3 separate regions of the Homo sapiens genome follow, and all the other regions are linked to region 1. Evidence: fine-mapped expression QTL. A gene starts in region 1. Each other region holds a variant in brackets. All regions are shown on one strand. Distances are between the middles of the regions.

Region 1 (4,352 bases):
CTCTGTGTCTGATTTAGTACAAAACATGCCTTCCCATCATTCTCTTAACATCTGACCAAATCTTGACTTGCATTATGTGGCATAATAGGATGGCGAGTCCATGGTGGGGAGGAGATACATGAACTTCATTGGTTATTTTGAGAGATTGATTAGGAACTGTACACTCAGCTTTAGGGATATTACTAATAAACCTTAATAGCGTTTTTCCATTCCAAGAAGCCACTGTTAACCAATGGCTTCCGCTGGAACGCTTTAATGTCCTACAAAGACATATACCGGTAGACTCTATCTGTCTCCTACGGACATGGTGGAACCTGTTTGCCTGGAGAAAAGAAATGTCATTGGCAAGAAAAGCTCTGCCCCAAATGCATGTGTAACAAAGATACTGCCCAATCCATCACCAGTGTTGCAAAGTGCACAGACTTCCTTTTGCTCTTTCAGGAAAGGTTCATGCCTTGAAGGAGAGTCAGGGGTGACATTTTAGTTTCAAAATCTGTCAGTGGCCAAAGGAACCAAAGACAGGTTGGTCTTTGCACCTGGGTGGTTTTAGCACAGAGATTGCTCCTTCATAAGGAAACCAAATATCTTGTTCAGTCACTGACCCTGGCCATACTGGAAATTTCCAGTAACGGTCTTTCTGAGGAAATTCTTCAAAAAACTTTGTACCTCTTATACTTTTATGTAATAGCATTCAGACATTCCTATTTCGTTATCGAAGGGTTTGCTCTTACGACAAAACAAAAACTCACCTTGAGACAACCATAACCAAGTTCCTGGGATGCAGTTGCATTTCCAACATGATCCACTGGGTCTTCACATTCTATAAATTCATCAGGTCTGTAATTCACCAGTAAGATCATGATCATCATCATACGGTCTTTGCAAATCGCTGTTTGCATGCACGTAATCAAAACGGGCAAAAGACATTTCTTCATCAAGTTTTCTGGGGTTCGGTTTCACCCTGCTGACCCCTTTCCAAGCCAATTAAACTGAAGCACAGCAGGTCAAACGGACAGCCACCAAAATGAACCTTTTGTTGGAGAAGGGAGGTGTTTCTGGTCCTGTTTCTATAAGGATTCTACTTCTGCCATGGTTTCATCTCTTCAGTAGGCAAACAACAAGATTCTGGGGGCAAAATTTAAGCCAAAGTATTCTCAGTCCTCTTTGCATTTCCCAAATGCCTTTTCTTGTTTGATCAAAAAGAGATGTTAAAAAATGGCGTGATTCTGCAACGGTAAGAATATTGATTGCTTTTTTAAAAGATGCCTTGTAGGCAGAGACAAGTCATTTACTCCATTTATGCCTTACTCAGTACTGGCACCGAATCGACCGACTAATACTCTCCTTGGGCTAAAGGGCGCAGGGCAAAGAAAGCACAACCTTACGCCCTTCTTCCAGAGGCTATATGATGTTACTCCTACCCAGTTTTCCTCTTTGGGGATCTCAAAGCCTCTGTCACTGACACACAAGAGTTTTCTCTGCACGGGCTGTGAGAAACCTGGTTCATGATATTTGCCTCCGGAACGACCTCAGAGAGGCAGGGTCTGAAAAAATGCAGCGTCCCCCCAACCCTGCCTTCCCTTAACACCCATATATTCCTGGCACACCCTCCACGTCCACCCGCCTCGACCACTGGTAGCTTACAGGTAAGAGCAGAGGATGACCGGAGAGTGGGGGTCGCCATATTCCCAGCTCGCAGCACCCCCGGGGCCCTCCGGCTGGGCGGCGCCAGCGGATGTGAGCTCAGGCTCAGCGGTCGCATTTTGCGAGTGGCTCCGAGACACACAATGCAGCAGAAGTAAATTCCCCAGCAGCAAAGCCGCCTGGCCGCACAGAAGTAAGTAACTAACCGGGCAACCACCTAGCACCATCTTCCCGGGCACAGGAGCGGAGACCCGGCCTCAACCACAACCCCAGGCCAGCAGCACAGACCCAAGAACTGCGTGGTCAGGCCTTTCCGCGTAGCCCCGCCCGCGTAGCCCCGCCAAACAGCCAATGGACGCGCAGCTCGACGCTCCGCGCACCTCCGCCAACCAACTAGAAAAGGTCGAGCAGACGGGCGGGGCTACTCCGCCCTCTGCTTCTGCTTCTCGATTCCTCTTCTGGGTCTCATGCTCCTCCTTCTTTTGCGCCGAATGCGTTCTCCAATCGGATCCGTCGACCCCCCTAGGTGGGCGTGCCCGGCAGCCGACGGGGCGGGGCGGATATGACTGGCGGGCCGACTAGTGCTGGTTGCCACCGCCGGTTTAGAAATCCTATTCTCGCGCCGGGGACTGGATTTTTCCCTACGTCAGCGCAGCTAGGCGATGTCGGGAGCGAGCTCGGACCGAGGGCTCAGTTGCGTCAGTGCCGCGCGCGTGCTCGTCGGGCGCGCGTGCTCGTCGGGCGCGCGCGCTTCCCGGCCAGACTTGGGGCCCCGGCAGGGTTGGAAAATGATGGAAGAGGCGGAGGTGGAGGCGACCGAGTGCTGAGAGGAACCTGCGGAATCGGCCGAGATGGGGTCTGGCGCGCGCTTTCCCTCGGGGACCCTTCGTGTCCGGTGGTTGCTGTTGCTTGGCCTGGTGGGCCCAGTCCTCGGTGCGGCGCGGCCAGGTGGGTGTCCGCGCCCCGGGTCGGTTGGGACGGCTGCTTCCTAGGGACGGGGCGCTCGGAGTGAACCTGTGGTGCCTGGGAGTGGAGGGGCCCGGCCTGGGGATCGGACCCGGGGTCGGGGGGCGCGGCCGCTCCAGGTGTGTGCGGACCGGGGTCGCACCCGAGGCGCGGGGTTTGGCGCCCCAAGCCCTTCTTGGCCCGGGTCCTCTGCCCGGCACCGCTTCCTCCGTGTCCTGTTCGATGGAGCCGTTCCCAGCGTCCCCCCATCCCTCGCCGCCTCGCGCGACCCCGGGTCCCCCAGACGCCCCGAAACCCGCTCTGGGGCGGGCGCTGACCTCGGCGGGCCGGAGCCCTGCAGGCTGGGCGCGCCCGCGGGCGTTCAGTCCTCCAAACGCCTGCAGGGAGGGAGCTGGCTCTCGCTCGTGGAGTTAATGTCGCTTGGAAAGAGACTGAGAGATGAAACTTTTGCTGCAGGTTATAATTTGAAATTTTGACGTTCATGGTATCCTTGGGTCAACACAGCTAAATTTAATGGTGGAATAAAGGTGGGTGGGAGGACGCTCATTTCTCTTGGGTCATTTTTGTAGTAAGAATATTTTGTAAACGATGTGCTACCTTTCTATAGCCAAACCATTCTTAAAAAATCTGTGTTTTTATTGGGTTCGTACTGTGTTAAATCCGGACAGATAATCCCTGCTCTTTTGAACTCACAGGATTATTGTAGGAATTAAATCATTTGTGTGAAATCGTTTTTGAATTGTGAAACTGCCCTTGACTATGTAAGATACTTGTATTGGAGATGCCCAAACATAGTGGAAGCAGATTGTCAGCACGCTGGCGTCTTTCTGGAAACAAGTTGTTTATTTTGGATTTTGTATGATATAATTGTTTGCATGGCTGTATTTTCTCTATCAGCGACAGAGGATGATGGAGAATGGGAGTTTTTACTAAATCATTGATTGAAAGTTATTCAAAGGTGATGATAGAAGATTTCAACGCAGGACTGTTGACCTTCAGGAAACTAATTACTTGTTTTTCTTATCTTTGGCTGCTTTATTTGAAATTAAGTAAATTTGCCCCAGTGTGGAAATGTTGAAACTCTGACAATGTTTTGAATGGGAAGTTGCCAAATTTCTTCTGGTTAAAACTACTTTTCCGGTGGTATTCTAGATGGTTAACACTCACCGATGTTTAAGGTGAAGACGATTATACATCCGGAGTTTTATTAATCTGTGATTTTTTTTTGTGTTTGTAAATGTAAATAAGACTGTATTTTTAAATGTTAATATAAATTGTCAGTCATTACCGACCTGCATTAGGTGAGTGGAATATCCTGATGGTCTTTAACTGTGGTTTTGGCCAGCTCCTCACTTCGGCATGTGTATGCCCCTTCAAAGTTTAGCCACCGTTTATGGAACTCCTATAAACACCACACAGTTGATTGTAGAGGGGCAGAAGGTGACCAAATATGCTAAGCGCATCTGAGAGATGTTGGGGAAGATTTTTAGAGAAAATAATATTTGAACTGGGCTACATCGGTGATTTTTCAAGTAGAATAGTAGATACATTCTAAGCAGAGGAAAGTTTTTGCAAGAGTATGGTGGGGCGGGGGGCGTATGAAAGAACATGACTTTTTAGGAAATGATAAAAATGTCAATATGTCTTCATGCAGACTATAAAAGGGAGGGATGGAAGATCAAACTAAGGTAGGTTGTTACCAGTTGGGAAGAGTCTTCTATGCTGAACTAAGGGGTTTGGAC
Region 2 (4,000 bases), 990 kb after region 1:
GGCTCACTGCAAGCTCCGCCTCCCAGGTTCACGCCAGTCTCCTATCTCAGCCTCCCAAGTAACTGGGACTACAGGCGCCCACCACAACGCCTGGCTAATTTTTATATTTTTAGTAAAGACGGCGTTTCACCATGTTAGCCAGGATGGTCTCGATCTCTTGACCTCGTGATCTGCCCGCCTTCGCCTCCCAAAGTGCTGGGATTACAGGCGTGAGCCACCGTGCCCGGCGTGCATTTTTAAAAGTGTGTCTGATGCTGAAAAGTTTGAAGTCTAGGCACGTCCCAGTGGGTCCTCTTTATACCATCCCCTCTGCAAACCATTATCCTAAATTGGGGTTTGGGGGAGAGAAGAGTGACAGTGGAAAGAAGTCTCCACCTCCCAGCTGTGCCCTGGTAGTTCCAGGGGACCCGGAGGCTCCCCACACCCACCACCCCGCCTCAGATCACCTTTCACTTTCTTTGTTTCTCCTCCCTTGACTTTTCAGCTCAGAAAGTACCTGGCTCTCCAATGCCTTCTGAGGAAAGTTTACCCGAGGTTCACATTGCAAGACTCATTAAAGCTCTTTAGTGTTTTCCACCCGAGAAAAAATTCAAGGGAAAAATGAAGACAAAAGCAGGGCATTCTTAATGGATATTTTATCTTAAGGAGAAATGAAAATGGAGATGGAAGAGGGGGCACAAGGATGGGGTTTGAATCTAGACTCGTTCAGCCTTTACCTCCGATAGAGAACCTCATACAGCTTTTCTGGACTTCTGGCTGATAAAGAGCCGTGGAGGGTTCCTTGGATAAAAAAGGTTGAAGGGGGTCTGTCCTGTGGTGGCTTACTTGAAGGTATTACTGGGTTTGACTTATGGAGTAAGAGACGGAGTCAGTTTCCCCACAGGCTGAGGCAGTCTGTCCTCATGCTTTTCTAGGGCACTGTGGTCTCCCAGGCTCATACCTAGGTGCACACACAGGTTTCTGCATCTAGCTTTGTATCTCTATGAGTCGGTCAATCAATAAATCTATCTATCATCTGTCTACTGATCTATCATCTATCTATCTAGCTAGCTATCATCTCTCTATCATCTATCTATGTATCTATCATCTCTCTCTATATATGTGTGTATATATATATATATATGTATATATATATTTCTATCCTTCCATCTACTTACCTATCTATCAAAATTTTTTTCCGTTGATAATATTCTCGGGCCCCAGTTTATGTTTAATTGTTTTGGTAATGCCTTTCTTTGCACAGTCAGTTTACAGAGGTTATTTTATATTCTATATGTATGTGTGGTCCAGCGTTGTAATTTTCACATATATTGCACCGTGTACTCATAAGCAGTATTTCCACTGGGTCATTAACAGAAAGATATGTGTGCGGCATATGAATGTGCATCACTCAGGTAATTCAAGCTTGGTTCCCAGATCATTTCTGTACCACAGGATTGCCGAAATAAAAGACAACCATGGTTATTTCCTCTGCTGCAAGCTTTCTAGAATATGCTATTTGTCTGGATTTATATCTGAAAGGTCCTGCCAAGGAATCTTGCCCTTCCATTTGTCGAAGTCTCCAGGAACTTGGGGCTCCCTCCTATCCTGGTCCACTCAGACTTGGTGCTGACGAACTGGACCAAAAAAGATCCAGACGGGTAAGGAAGGAAGAGAATGCTTTGAATTTCCATAACTTTCCCCCAGGAAACACCCAGGCTTTTTTTTATAATTAGGGAAGTTCATATTTATGGTCTGCCGTATGGTTCCAAAGAAGGGGTGAGCTTGACCAAAAATTCAAATATCACAGGCCCCAGAAGTTTCCTCTTAATCCATTCTGAACACATTGGCTCAGACCATTTTGTCTTGTTTGTTTCCACATGACGTGTGAATTTCTCAACCTGACCTTCAAGCTCCTGCAAAATCAGCTTTTATTTGTTCTTTCTCTTCAAACTGTTTATTCCCTAAGATGCCCTCCATTCATATCAGGTTAAAACCAGTTGGCTTTGATAAGTAATCATTATATAATGATCAGAAGAGAATGATTATGGATGAATTCAGAGCAGATGCTCCAGGTGGGTTGGATTGAGAATTTGATTAATAATTCCATCTATTCCACCAAAGTCACATCATTCCTTTGACAGTTGGGCTGGGAATAGGGGCATTTGTCTACAGAAGGAATAGCATGAGATTTTAACAAACAAGAAATTCAACAAA[C/T]AGAATTAGACAGATGATCTGAGATGTTAAATTTTCCTTTCACCTTAATTTTTGCAGCCAAATTTATTTCAGCTCTAGATGAAAGAGACAGCACTTTCTTTTGTGGCTGACTACAACAGCTGAAGATTCACTGAGGTTTGATATGAGGAAGAACTTCCTCAGCCATGGGATTGCCAGAGGCGATGATGGGAATCTACTTAAAAGGGTTACATATTTAGTAGACAGCCTAGATTTTAAGACTAATTTATGTGCCCCGGCCGGGCCCGGTGGCTCACCCCTGTAATCCCGGCACTTTGGGAGGCTGAGGCAGGTGGATCATCTGAGGTCAGGAGTTGAAGACCAGCCTGGCCAACATGGTGAAACCCCGTCTCTACTAAAAATACAAAAAAATTAGCCGGGCATGGTGGCACATACCTGTAATGCCAGCTGCTCGGGAGGCTGAGGCAGGAGAATTGCTTGAACGAAGGAAGTAGAGGTTGCAGTGAGCGAAATCATGCCATTGCACTCCAGCCTAGGTGACAAACTCTGTCTCAAAAGAAAAAAAAATTATGTGCCCCATTGGAAGAAGTGAGATTCGGCCATCTCATCTCTCTCGGGAGCTCTGAGCCCTGGAGTTTTATGTTTTCTGCAATTATGAATTGTGATCCTTGATTAATTATGCTTTAATAATAAAATGGGTGACTACTGAAAGCTGCTGAATCTGGGTAAGAATTTGGATGAAAAAAATAATATATGTGCGTAATTTATTCTGTTCAAGGTACTGAATATTGAATAAGCTGGATTTATTACTCAAAGAGAAAGACAGAATAAGAGAAGGTTGAAGGGAAAAATGACTGTACTAGAATGGTAGTCAAAAATGCAACAACAGGCAGGTGCAGCGGCTCATGCCTATAATCCCAGCACATTGGGAGGCCCAGGTGGGCAGGTCACCTGAGATCAGGAGTTTGAGACCAGCGTGGCCAACATGGCCAAACCCCCTCTCTACTAAAAATACAAAAATTAGCCAGGTGTGGCAGTGGGTGCCTGCAATCCCAGCTACTCAGGAGGCTGAGGCAGGAGAATCACTTGAACCTGGGAGGCAGAGGTTGCAGTAAGCTGAGACTGCACCACTGCACTCCAGCCTGGGTGACAGAGTGAGATCCTATCTCAAAAACAAACAAAACAAAACAAAACAATAACAAAAAAGCTATTAATAGCTTCCTAGGGAGTAAGAGTGAAGGGCTAGTTTAATTCCAGAGATGCGGACACAGTCCTGGGTCTCACCAATTATTCTGCTTGGTAATTACCTTTTGAAGCCTTTTAATATGCCTAACACAGAGCTAAGTGCTATGAAGAAATGAAAGAAATAGAAGCAAAGTACTCCCCATGTGGTTAAATAACAAGACACTACATGACAAATGTCAAAGAGTGACTCAAACAATATGTCCTTTAGAATTTCAGAGAAATGACATCAATGCAGGCTTTACAAGTCAGTAAAAATCTTGGTGATGAGGCAGAACTTGATGTAAGGCAAATCCTAAAAGTTGAGTAGGAATCAACTAGCTAGAATAAAATGTGGGGTTGTGGTAAATACAAAAATGTAAGATGAGTGAAATAACTTATTTATTTATTTATTTATTTTCAGAGACGGAGTCTCCCTCTGTCTCCCAGGCTGGAGTGCAGTGGCATGATCTCGGCTCACTGCAACCTCTGCCTCCTGGGTTTGAGCAATTCTCCTGCCTCAGCCTCCTGAGTAGCTGGGATTGCAGGCACCTACCACCACACCCGACTAATTTTTGTATTTTTAGAGAGATGGGGTTTTACC
Region 3 (4,352 bases), 93 kb after region 1:
AAAACTTAACTACGAATAGTCTGCTGTTGACTGGAAGACTTACCAATAACATAAACAGTTGATTACCATAGATTTTGTCTGTTATATGTATTATATACTGTATTATTATAATAAAGCAAGCTAGAGAAAAGCAAATTTATTAAGAAAATCATAAGAGAAAATATATATACTATTCATTAAGTGGAAGTAGATTATCATAAAGACCTTCATCCTCATCATCTTCCTGTAGAGTAGGCTGAGGAGGAGGAGGAAGAGGAGAGGTTGGTCTCAGGGGTGGCAGAAACACAAGATAGCCTGCATATAAGTGGACCTGCACAGTTCAAACCCACATTGTTCCAGGGCCAACTGTATTTTGATTTTCAGTTGGGATAAATATTGTTTCATATAGTTTTATACAACTTTTTTTTTTTTTGAGATGGAGTCTCGCTCTGTTGCCCACGCTGGAGTGCAGTGGTGCAATCTCGGCTCCGCCTCCCGGGTTCATGCCATTCTCCTGCCTCAGCCTCCCGAGTGGCTGGGACTACAGGCGCCTGCCACCACGCCCAGCTAATTTTTTTTTGTATTTTTAGTAGAGACGGGGCTTCACCATGTTAGCCAGGATGGTCTCGATCTCCTGACCTTGTGATCCGCCTGCCTCGGCCTCCCAAAGCGCTGGGATTACAGGTGTGAGCCACTGCGCCCGGCCAGTTTTATACAACTTTTTACAGAAATTTCTGGTTCTTTTACAAACTTAAAATTATGAATCAGTTTACCACTCCCGTTTATATCTACTATATTGTTTCTCAAAAGAACACAGAACAGATAAAATACTTAAAGAATTTGTAAAAGTTCTAATGAAACTTAAAATCTAGAAGGCGTAAAAATAAGATTGATAAATTCAACTATACAAAAATAATAAACTTTTCCGTGGAGAAAAGCATAGTGCCATAGGTTAAAATGGGGAAAATATTTCCAACTTGTATCATGGACAAAGCTAATCTCTCTAATATATAAAGAACTTTTAGAAATTAAGAAGAAAAAAGCAAGAGTCCAGTAGAAAAACAGTCAAAGGACTGAGCAGAAAAAAATAAATAATGTTTCCTTAAGAAAAAAGTGAGGCCAGGCACGGTGGCTCACGCCTGTAATCCCAGCACTTAGGGAGGCCGAGGCGGGCAGATCATGAGGTCAGGAGTTGGAGACCATCCTGGCCAACATGGTGAAACCTGTCTCTACTAATAATACAAAAAAATTAGCTGGGCGTGGTGGCGCATACCTGTAATCCCAGCTACTCGGGAGGTGGAGGCAGCAGAATCGCTTGAACCCAGGAGGCAGAGGTTGCAGTGAGTGGAGATCGTGCCATTGCACTAGCCTGGGCAACAGGGTGAGACTCCATCTCGGGAAAAGAAAAGAAAAAAAAATTATCAACTCATAGTATAAAAAAATGTAAATTAAAATTCTATAAGAGAAAATTTTTCACCTGCCTGGTTGGCAAAAATCCGGAAATTTGGCTCTGTGGGTGAGGCTATGGGGAATTCTTATATATTGCTTGTAATATTCTTATAAATTGTAACCATTACTATTGAAAGACAATTTGACAATACCTAAAAGAAATGATGAATGCACTTATTTATTGATACAGCATTTCTGCTTTAGGGAAATTATTCTGTAGTTATTATACCTGCACTAATATGATACAACATATGTGCAAGGTTATTCATTATAGCAGTTTTTTTGGTAGTAGCAAAAGATTGGAAAAATATAAGTGTTTATCAGTAGGGTACAAGTTAAATAAACTCTAGAACATCTTCACAATGGAGTTTCATATAGCTGTATGGAAAACGAGGAGGTCCACTATGTACAGATAAGTGGAAAAAAACTGATGCACCAAATGGTATATAAATAGT[A/G]TGCTACCTTTTGTGTAAGAAAGTGTTGACAGTAGAAACGTATTTTGTTCTTGATTGTTTGCTCGAAGAAATACTGTAAGGTTACAGAAGAAACTAATAAAAGTGGTTATTTTTGTGAAGGCAGAAGTAAAGCGGACAGGAATGAACTTTGTGGAAGACTTCTCAATATATTCAATTAATATCAGTTTGATTTTTGAGTAATGTGAAAATTAATGTAAAGTGTTTATAATCATCTAGTATTTTCTGCCTAGTATGAGTTTGGTGACTGTTGATGTAAAATTCTTCTCTCTAGAAATGAATACTGCATTGAGGGACGGACTTCTGGTCTTCTTCTTCCTAATTGTTCCCCTTATTGTCTGTGCTATTTTTATCTTCATCAAGAGGGATCAACTGTGGAGAAGCTACTTCAGAAAGAAGAGATCACAAACATATGAGTACTTAGATTTTTTTCTTTTAATTCCTATATTAAATATATACATACATTTTCTGAGACAGAATCTCGACTTCCCTGGGCTCAGGTGATTCCCCCTGCCTCAGCCTTCCAAGTAGTTGGGATTACAGGCACACCACCACACCCAGTTAATTTTTATATTTTTTTGTAGAGATGGGGTTTCGCCATGTTGCCCGGGCTGGTCTTGAACTTTTTGAAGCCATCCATCTGCCTCAGCCTGCCAAAGTGCAGGGATTACTGGAGTGAGCCTCCACGCTCAGCCTATATTAAATAATTTATAAAGTATTAATGCTGATAGTCATATCACCAGAGATTGGTAATCCTCTAAAATAGGGTTCTAAGTTATTTCTCTGACCTTTTGACATGATTAGCATGGGTTGAAAGGTGGTGGTGACCAAGCCACCTCTTTTAATGGGGAGGAGAAAGGCTTATGTTGGTCAGCCTTTAGGCTGCTGAAAGTGACCCTCAGGGTTCATTTTGCTTAACACCAATTTCTGATAGAGGACTAAGTAGATACTTCGTATCATACTTCCAACTGACCAGTCTATGCAAATAACTCCCCCATCTGCATTTTTGAAGTTTGAGTTCCATAACTACAGCTATCTTTCATACATCTCCACTGCACTGATTTGCTGTCACTTCAGCATGTCTAAAACTTACCTATTACCTTTCCAGCCAATCCATTCACTACCCTTGGATTTCCTAATTTTTAAAATGACTACTTGGCAACCTGAGAATATGCTTTTACTCTTCTCTGATTTTAGGAAGACTTGAGAAAAGTTAGGGAACATTGGCCTAATTGACCAAATTTCACAATTTCTTAAAATTTCAGTTTAATTATAAAATGTGGTTAGTAATGCTTTCTAATACCATAAGGATTAAAAATACGTGAAAGCTGTTAAAATGCCCTAAAAATTTAAACCGTATCATGATTATCATCCCCACCACTACCAACATCATTATTCTGTATTTGGGAAAATGCAAAATGTGTGTAATATTTCATGTAGAAATGTTTTTATCTTAATTTAGATCAAAAGTAATTGTATCTTTCAGGTCAGATGGCAAAAATCAAGCAAACCCTTCTAGACAGCCGGGGAGTGTTCCTCGACATGTTTCTCCAGTGACACCTCCCAGAGAAGTTGTAAGTATAAAATGAAAAATTATTTTTCTTTACTGTATTAAAGGATCAAATGCTTAAGGATTAAAAACACAGTTATATAGCTATAGCTAGAAACATAGATACCTTCTTAAGAATTCAAGAGTATTGTAGGTGGTCCCTGAGTTTTTTGTTTTTGTTTTCGAGACAGAGCCTTGCTCTGTTGCCCGGGGTGGAGTACTGTGGCACAATTGCGTCTCATTGCAACCTCTGCCTCCCAGTTTCAAATGATTTCGTGCCTCAGCCTCCCGAGTAGCTGGGATTACAGGTGTGTACCACCACGCCTGGCTAATTTTTGTATTTTTCATAGAGACGGGGTCTCACCGCATTGGCCAGGCTGGTCTTGAACTCCTGACCTCAAGTGATCCACCCGCCTTGGCCTCCCAAAGTGCTGGGATTACAGGTATGAGCCACTGTGCCCTGCCCCCTGAGTTCTTTAAAGGAAAACCAGCGGAGTCCTTGGCTCAGAGGACACAGAAAAAGACAGCTGGACATTAGGAATGCCTTGCCTAGCAACCAGGATTGGGAAATGACATGGGACGTATGCTATCACTGCTTTTTTCTGTGTCTGCTCTTTTCCTATTTTCAATACCTGTCTCCATCTCCCTATGGGATGTTACCAAAGACCTGGTGCTGAGCTCTTGGATCGGCCTAATTGTCTAAGCTGTAGGACTGATAGTCACTGTTCTGCAAGTGTATTAGGGAGTGTTTAGATCATGATATACTTTTATTGAGTGTTTAGATCATGATATACTTTTATTGATCTGCATGTATCCCTAAGCAATATGTAATTTTTTAATGTTTTAAAACTTTTAAGAACGTTTTATTTGATAATTTGCACATATATCTGCAACCTGTTTTT

Alleles and levels. Alleles are on the strand shown, and positions count from the first base shown. SD is a standard deviation of normalised expression in the study named. Not every link is listed here.
In carriers of allele T in region 2, the expression in caudate of the gene that starts at base 2,405 in region 1 tends to be lower than with C alone (moderate effect, 0.59 SD a copy in GTEx).

Evidence for each region.
Region 2: its variant is fine-mapped to the expression of ADAM9 in caudate (GTEx, PIP 0.96).
Region 3: its variant is fine-mapped to the expression of ADAM9 in whole blood (INTERVAL, PIP 0.96).

The regions. Positions count from the first base shown.
Region 1 is chr8:38,994,569-38,998,920 of GRCh38, forward strand. It overlaps ADAM9 (ADAM metallopeptidase domain 9), which reads left to right and starts at 2,405. Exons shown (of 22, transcript NM_003816.3): 1 at 2,405-2,592. The coding sequence starts at 2,496. It overlaps TM2D2 (TM2 domain containing 2), which reads right to left and starts at 1,941. Exons shown (of 4, transcript NM_078473.3): 1 at 1,645-1,941; 2 at 750-837. The coding sequence starts at 1,871. RefSeq lists enhancers at 1,069-1,591, 1,592-2,113, 1,722-1,911, 2,072-2,171, 2,232-2,281 and 1 more and a silencer at 2,612-3,041.
Region 2 is chr8:39,981,131-39,985,130 of GRCh38, forward strand. It overlaps IDO2 (indoleamine 2,3-dioxygenase 2), which reads left to right. Exons shown (of 11, transcript NM_194294.5): 5 at 1,522-1,640. Among named protein-coding and RNA genes, the nearest start is that of IDO2, 48 kb to the left of the region's middle. The variant C/T (reference allele first, on the strand shown) is at 2,197.
Region 3 is chr8:39,087,872-39,092,223 of GRCh38, forward strand. It overlaps ADAM9 (ADAM metallopeptidase domain 9), which reads left to right. Exons shown (of 22, transcript NM_003816.3): 19 at 2,176-2,317; 20 at 3,388-3,475. Among named protein-coding and RNA genes, the nearest start is that of ADAM32, 18 kb to the right of the region's middle. The variant A/G (reference allele first, on the strand shown) is at 1,884.